2 linked regions of the Homo sapiens genome follow. The protein of the gene in region 1 purifies or fractionates together with the protein of each later gene. This does not show direct contact. Each region holds a gene or a part of one and is shown on either strand. Other genes may lie near its edges.

The links. The genes of interacting proteins can lie anywhere in the genome.
Region 2: the proteins of RNF103 (region 1) and CTSB purify together in Homo sapiens (affinity purification with mass spectrometry, with the first as the bait; one large-scale study listed by BioGRID). This does not show direct contact.

Annotation. Positions count from the first base shown.
Region 1 is NC_000002.12:86,606,866-86,610,365, reverse strand, and holds part of RNF103 (E3 ubiquitin-protein ligase RNF103), read left to right. Parts: intron 1-3,500. UniProt on the Homo sapiens protein: Acts as an E2-dependent E3 ubiquitin-protein ligase, probably involved in the ER-associated protein degradation pathway.
Region 2 is NC_000008.11:11,861,588-11,865,087, forward strand, and holds part of CTSB (cathepsin B isoform 1 preproprotein), read right to left. Parts: intron 2,897-3,500; exon of another isoform or gene 2,789-2,896; intron 892-2,788; exon of another isoform or gene 758-891; intron 1-757. UniProt on the Homo sapiens protein: Thiol protease which is believed to participate in intracellular degradation and turnover of proteins. Cleaves matrix extracellular phosphoglycoprotein MEPE. Involved in the solubilization of cross-linked TG/thyroglobulin in the thyroid follicle lumen.

The DNA.
Region 1 (3,500 bases):
TCTGATTCTGTATTAGCTGAGAAATGGTGAAGAGATACATACAAGCTAGCTCCAGATGTTTTCCTCTAAATCCTTCATCTTCAAATAATCCTACCTCTTATTTACAATTGAAGCAATGTTTTTTTGGATAACTTTTTGCTTTTTTGTTGATTGTAGCTATAGTTTTTGTTATTTAAAAAAGTACTTCTACTCAGCTTCATCAGAAAATGATTTTGTTGCACAGTGACTTGTACCAGTTCCAATAATGTGCCCATGACTCCTCATTTGGAAAGTCCTCCAACTGGAATAAGAATTGTTCTTGCCATAGAAGCTATGCTTAGTCAGGGTCATTTTTCTTTTCTTTTGATGACTATGGAGATATAGAAGAACAAAATTTAGAGATATAGAGAAGAGTGTTCAGAATTTCAATGCAGGGTGTAAGTGGGCAGAGAATAGTGTTATTCAGGAAGTGTTTTAATCACATATTTTGAATAATTGAGTCATCATCTTGATTTTGGAGTTTTAAAAATACCAAAACTCTGTGCCCCACTGTCTATGCTGCATTCTTTGACTGTAGTCCCTTCTCTGGGGTGGCCTCTGGGCAGCTGACTTCAGTGTGCTGGTCCCACTGTACAGCTGTACTTTCCTGACCTGTTTAGCTCCTGCCTTAGTCTGTTTTGTGTTGCTGTATAAGAATACCTGAGGCTGAGTGGTGGCTCACGCCTGTAATCCCAGCACTTTGGGAGGCTGAGGCAGGTAGATCACCGGAGGTAAGGAGTTGGAGACCAGCCTGGCCAACATGGTGAAACCTGTCTCTACTAAAAATACAAAAATTAGCCAGGCGTGGTGGCGGGTGCCTGTAATCCCAGCTACTCGGGAGACTGAGGCAAGAGAATCACCTGAACCCAGGAGGTGGAGGTTGCAGTGAGCCGAGATTGCACCACTGCACTCCAAGCCTGGGTGACAAGAGCGAGACTCTGTCTCAAAAAAAAAAAAAAAAAATACCTGAGGCTGAGTAATTTATGAAGAAAATAGATTTATTTAGCTCACTGTTCTGCAGGCTGTATAAGAACCATGGTGCCAGCATCTGCTCAGCTTCTGGTGAGGCTTCTGTGCTGCCAGAACATGGTAGAGAAGGTCAAAGGGGAAGTGGACACATGTGAAGGGCATGTGGCTTTATGTCAGCCCACTCTCGAGGAAACTACTCCATTTCCACAAGAACTAATTCAGTCTTGCCAAAGCTAGAACTCACTAACTTGAGAGCAGCACTAAGTGTTCATGAGGGATCCACCTCCATGACCCAGACACCTCCCACTAGGCCTCACCTCTCAACACTGCCACACTGGGAAGAAAATGTCAACATGAGGTTTGGTGGGGACAGACAAACCATAACCAAACCAGAGTAGCTCCCTTAAGAACATTTAGGACTACCACTTCTGAGCAACTTCTGACTGTCTAGTTGTAGCAGCTTTAATTTCTTTCCCTATGTACCCAGAAGGAGTGGCCTTGCCTGGCTCTACCTCTTCTCATTCCCTAACCAGCAGATCGATTTCAGAGGGCTTTTCCTGTGAGGTTCATACTCTGTACTTTTTTTGACAAAGTAGGAGATGAGGTGGTAATGATGTGTAGAGAGGGTTGGGGAGATGGGGATTAGTAAAGAGAAGATAGAGGACATGGAAATTGCAGGAGCTGAGTGGTAAACAGGAAGCCTTATGGCAAGAGTGTCAGGGATGGTGGCCTGTGGAAAAAACGGGGAAGGAGAAGAGAAGGGGGGATTGCAGAGAGAGCGAGGAAAACCAAGGAGGCCAATGACCTTGTCTGAAAAAACAGCATATATAAACAGAAATGTTAAGGTTTCTCTCTCTTCCTTTCTTCCTTTTTTTTTTTTTTTTTTTTTTTTGAGATGGAGTCTCACTCTATTGCCCAGGCTGGAGTACAGTGGCACGATCTCAACTCACTGCAACCTCAGCCTACTGGGTTCAGGCGATTCTTGTGTCTCAGCCCCCCAAGTAGCTGGGATTACAGGTGCGTGCCACCATGCCCAGCTAATTTTTGTATTTTCAGTAGAGACAGCGTTTCACCATGTTGGCCAGACTGTTCTCAAACTCCTGGCCTCAAGTGATCCACCCACCTTGGCCTCCCAAAGTGCTGGGATTACAGGTGTGAGCCACTGAGCCCTGCTTCTTCTTAAATATAGCATGCCACATCAGCAACTGGAAGACCAAAACTCACAAGGCATATTTCCTATCGTTTTTAGTCTTAAAATTCTCTAAGAGAACTCAAAAGGTTTAGTTTAAAAACTAGAGGATATTTTCATGGTATTGTCATTGAATTTGTTCAGATCATAAAAAAATTTTTTTTGAATTGGCAATAAAAGTTTTTATATTGATGTAAGGTAATACAACCTTATTCTATCTGGAATGATAAAATTATTACTTAGCTCTGAGCTGAAAAGAAAGCACATAATATGTTTGTTTTCTTATGTGAAGAAATGTCTGCACTTAGAACTTGTTCATTTTACAAAGTAAGTTTTCTGTCAGAAAGGCTGTCATTTAATTTATGACACAAATCAGAGGCCATAGTAGGAAGATAAAATAGATGGCCAAGAGTTGAAATGTGTCATCACAAATATCAAGTGCAATGAAAACATTAAAGATACTTGAAGATATTTAAGATATAAATAAGACAGTTGTCCATATGCATTTGACTTGTTACTTTTTTGGGATACGGTAAAAATAGAATTCATGTCAATCAATGAATTATTATTTTGCATTGAGTAGAAGATATTTATTTTGTAGGAATATATACTTTTCAGACCATTTCAGTTAAAACAGTAATGATATTAATGGAATCTGTCTTATTAAGGTAGTGAATCAACTCAACAAGAAGCTAAGAGTCACAGTCTGTGATTTTGAGTCACCTAGACAGTTTTCCAGAGTCATCACTAACCTTGTCTTAAGACATAGCGTGTTGTCTTCATTTATCTTAAACTATATCACAGAATCCCTGAGATAAAATTAGTCATATTATCATTATACAGCCATATGCTACCTACGTCAAGACTCTTCTCTTCATCTGATCATATGATGTGTAATATGTTTATTTAATAAAATATAATCCATGCTAAGTAAAGCATAACATCTATGACTTTTACATCAATATTCTGAGTAGCAAAATGCGAAGTCAGATATTTATTACTATGCATATACAAATCTGTAACAAATAAAACGTTTCCATGTGGTAGATTGTCTTTTTTACAACTTTATTGAGGTAAATTTTACTTAAAAATTTCACATGGTAGGTTTTGGAAAAAAAAATACTTTTTAAAAACAAAAGATTAACTCTTCTGTGTGGTACATGAAAAACTAACTAAAACCAAAAACAAAAGGCAGCCTGGGCGACATGGTGAGACCCCAACTCTACAAAAAATTCTTTTAAAACTTAGCCTAGCATGGTGGCGTGCATATGTGGTCCTAGCTACTCAAGGAGGCTGAGGCAGGAGAATCGCTTGAGCCCAGGAG
Region 2 (3,500 bases), on another chromosome or scaffold:
ATTTTTTGTTGTCGTTGTTGGTTGTAAACAAGACAATTTAGTCAATATTCTGGAAAGTTCTGAAAGCTTTTACTCCCCATTTCTGTTACTGACTTGCTCAGATGCTGACAGAGCCAATGCATTCACCACGTCTGCATCGGATACCAAAGGACCTTGGGCCTGCTTTATAAAAGCTTTTAGAGATCCTTTGAGATTGCAATGAGATTAGTGTTCTGCTCATTAGTGTTCTGCCTCTCCAGCTTGCAGAACACGGCGGTTCCCTAATTCAACCGCAGGCGAGATTACACCAGGGTAGTTGAGGCTGACGCGAAGGCCAGCCACAGAAAGGCCTAGCTCTGGGCCGGGCATGCTGGCTCACGCCTGTAATCCCAGTACTTTGGGAGGCTGAGGTGGGCGAATCACGAGGTCAGGAGATCGAGACCATCCTGGATAACACGGTGAAACCCCGTTTCTACTAAAAATACAAAAAAATAGCCAGGCATGGTGGCAGGCGCCTGTAGTCCCAGCTACTCGGGAGGCTGAGGCAGGAGAATGGCGTGAACCCGGGAGGCGGAGTTTGCAGTGAGCCGAGATCACGCCACTGCACTCCAGCCTGGGCGACAGAGTCAGACTCCATCTCAAAAAAAAAAAAAAAAAGAAAGGCCTAGCTCTTGGATCCAGCTAGGTCCTGTTTTCCTCCCTTGGGGCCCTGGGAACAGATACCCATCTCGCAAGGCTGATGGAAGATACAAGGAGACACTCTTTTGAAAGTGCCTACCCTGCACCAGGCTCAGAGCAGCGCCATCTGGGAGAAACTTCCTCAGTCACTGGGAGCGTGAAAAGCCATCTCCTTATACATAGGACAGCCAACGTTTGCATCCCAGAGTCATCATTTCTATTTTCAGAAGTATCCTAATTTGGATGAAAAATAATGGAAATTGTACTATCAGTGACAAGGCCTTAAAAGTTGATTTGTTCTGCTGTCTTGACTGCCAAAGCAAAGCATGTCCCAAACACCAGGAAGGCTGAGTGGGTTGGGAATGGGTGGCAGGTGGCCCCCAGCACTCTGATGTGGTTTGATGATACGCTTCCAACCCTCGAATGGGAAAAGCCTGTGGCTGGCACCGCCCTCCTGGGACTTGCGCAAGCCAGGAAGCTGTGTGACTGTGTGTGTGCACATTCTGCCAGAGTCCAGGTCAGCACGTCAGAGGGTCATGAGACAGCCCGGCCCTCCGGGCTCTTAGGGCAGAATATCTAGATGTCTTCTACAGGGCTCTCTACTGGTCCCGTTACCATCTTGGCCACATTGGGCCCATCCTTCTCCATGCATGCTTGCTGGTGATGCTAGATTATCTTGATGACCAGACCAAAGAAGTTACTGGCCTGGTAAAGACAGATAACACAGTCAAGACTGCCAGCCACACATCCTTCTCAGCACCCAGCATTTAGAAAACATCAGTTCTGGGCTGAGCACAGTGGCTCACATCTATAATTCTGACACTTCGGGAGGCCAAGGTGGGAAGATTGACTGAACCCAGGAGATTAAGACCAGCCTGGGCAGGATAGTGACCTCGTCTCTATATAGAAAATTAAAATTTAAAATAAAAAATAAATAGGCTAGCGGTGGCTCAGGCCTGTAATCTCAGCACTTAGGGAAGCCAAGACAGGCAGATCATGAGCTCAGGAGTTCAACACCAGCCCGACAAACATAGTGACATCCCGTCTCTACTAAAAATACAAAAATTAGCTGGGCGTGGTGGCACACGCCTGTAATCCCAGCTACTCAGGGGGCTGAGGCAGGAGAATCACTTGAACCCGGGAGGCGGAGGTTACAGTGAGCCGAGATTACACCACTGCACTCCAGCCTGGCGACACAGTGAGACTCCGTTTCAAAAAAAAAACAAAAAAACCCAGCAAATATGCCATCACTGACCAACAATAAAAACAGGAAAAGTGTCACTCAACCCATTTATGCCAGAGGTTGCAATTTTTTAAATTTTTGCACGAGTAAAAACATCAGACCTTGGCGATGACCTTGAGCAGTATGATGTAAAAACTCCCACATGCTTAGCGTTCTAATAATGGAACACTAGGCATAAGTGGGTTACTGTTGTCCTACAGCAAAGATTAAATTTGAATTTCTGGTCATGAAATTAAAACAGGGGTACCACTTCAAACCCATCAGATTGGCAAAAATCAAAGTCTGGTACTATCTAGTGTTGGTAAATGTGAGGAACAGGAACTCTGCACACTGCTGGGCGAGTAAATTGATGCAACCACACTGGAGAACCCTTTGCCAGCATCTAGCAAGATGGAAGATGAACACACCTCATGACCCAGAAACAAACTCTCCCACATGTGCCCTGCAGAAACTCTTCTAAGTATCTGGGAGACACAGGATATTTATTGTAGCATGGGATAATAGTGAACACGAAATAACATAACTGTCCCTCAGTAGATAAACACACTGGGCACTTAACACAAATGGACTAGAACTGGATGTAGCAACAGAAATAAATCTCACAACCGTGAGTGAAAAAGGATCCATGTAGTGTAACTGAAGTCATATAAACTTTAATAACATTGTTTATACACTGATGCAGAGTTTTAAAAGTACAAAAAGGCCTGGAGGTGACTCATGCCTTGTAATCCCAGCATTTGGAAGGCCTAAGTGGGAGGAGGCAAGGGGATCACTTGAAACCAGGAGTTTCAGAGCAGTCCTGGCAACAGTGAGACCCTGTCTCTACCAACGAAAAAAAAAAAAAAAAAAAAAAAAACCTGGGCACCGCCTGTGGTCCCAGCTACTTACTACTCGGGAGGCTGAGGTGGGAACCAGATCGCTTACATCTGGGTGGCTGAGGCTGCCGTGAGCCGTGGTCGCACCACTGCACACCAGCCTGGGAGACAAAGCAAGACCCTGTCATTAATCAAACAATAAATGAATGAATGCATGAACAAAAAAATGTGCAGAAGAATCCAAAAGAGGGGCAGCAGACAGGGAATACAATGGCCCTTGGAAGGATCAGGAAACAGGCACAGGAGTGGTCTACAGAGGCGGACGATAAGGCTTGAAACTAAAAAAGAGATTAGTTAAAAGTCTAAACACATGGCTGGGCACAGTGACTCACACCTGTAATCCCAACACTTTGGGAGGCGAGGCGGGCAGATCATTTGAGGTCTCTACTAAAAATACAAAAATTAGCCAGGCATGGTGGTGCATGCCTCTAATCCCAGCTACTCCGGAGGCTGAGGCAGGAACATTGCTTGAACCTGGGAGGTGAGGTTGCAGTGAGCTGAGATTGTGCCACGGCATTCCAGCCTGGGTGACAGAGTGAAACTGTCTCAAAAAAAAAAAGAAAGAAAAAAATGTCTAAACACAGAGTGGAATTTGATCCCTAAACCTCCTACCCCACACAAGCTAGGGTAAATATAAACATTAACAACCATGCCAGGGCGCAAGGTTTGCCTCCCACATGCTCTTTCTCAGGCAGCCTGGGACCAGACGTAGAGACTGCTGCCTG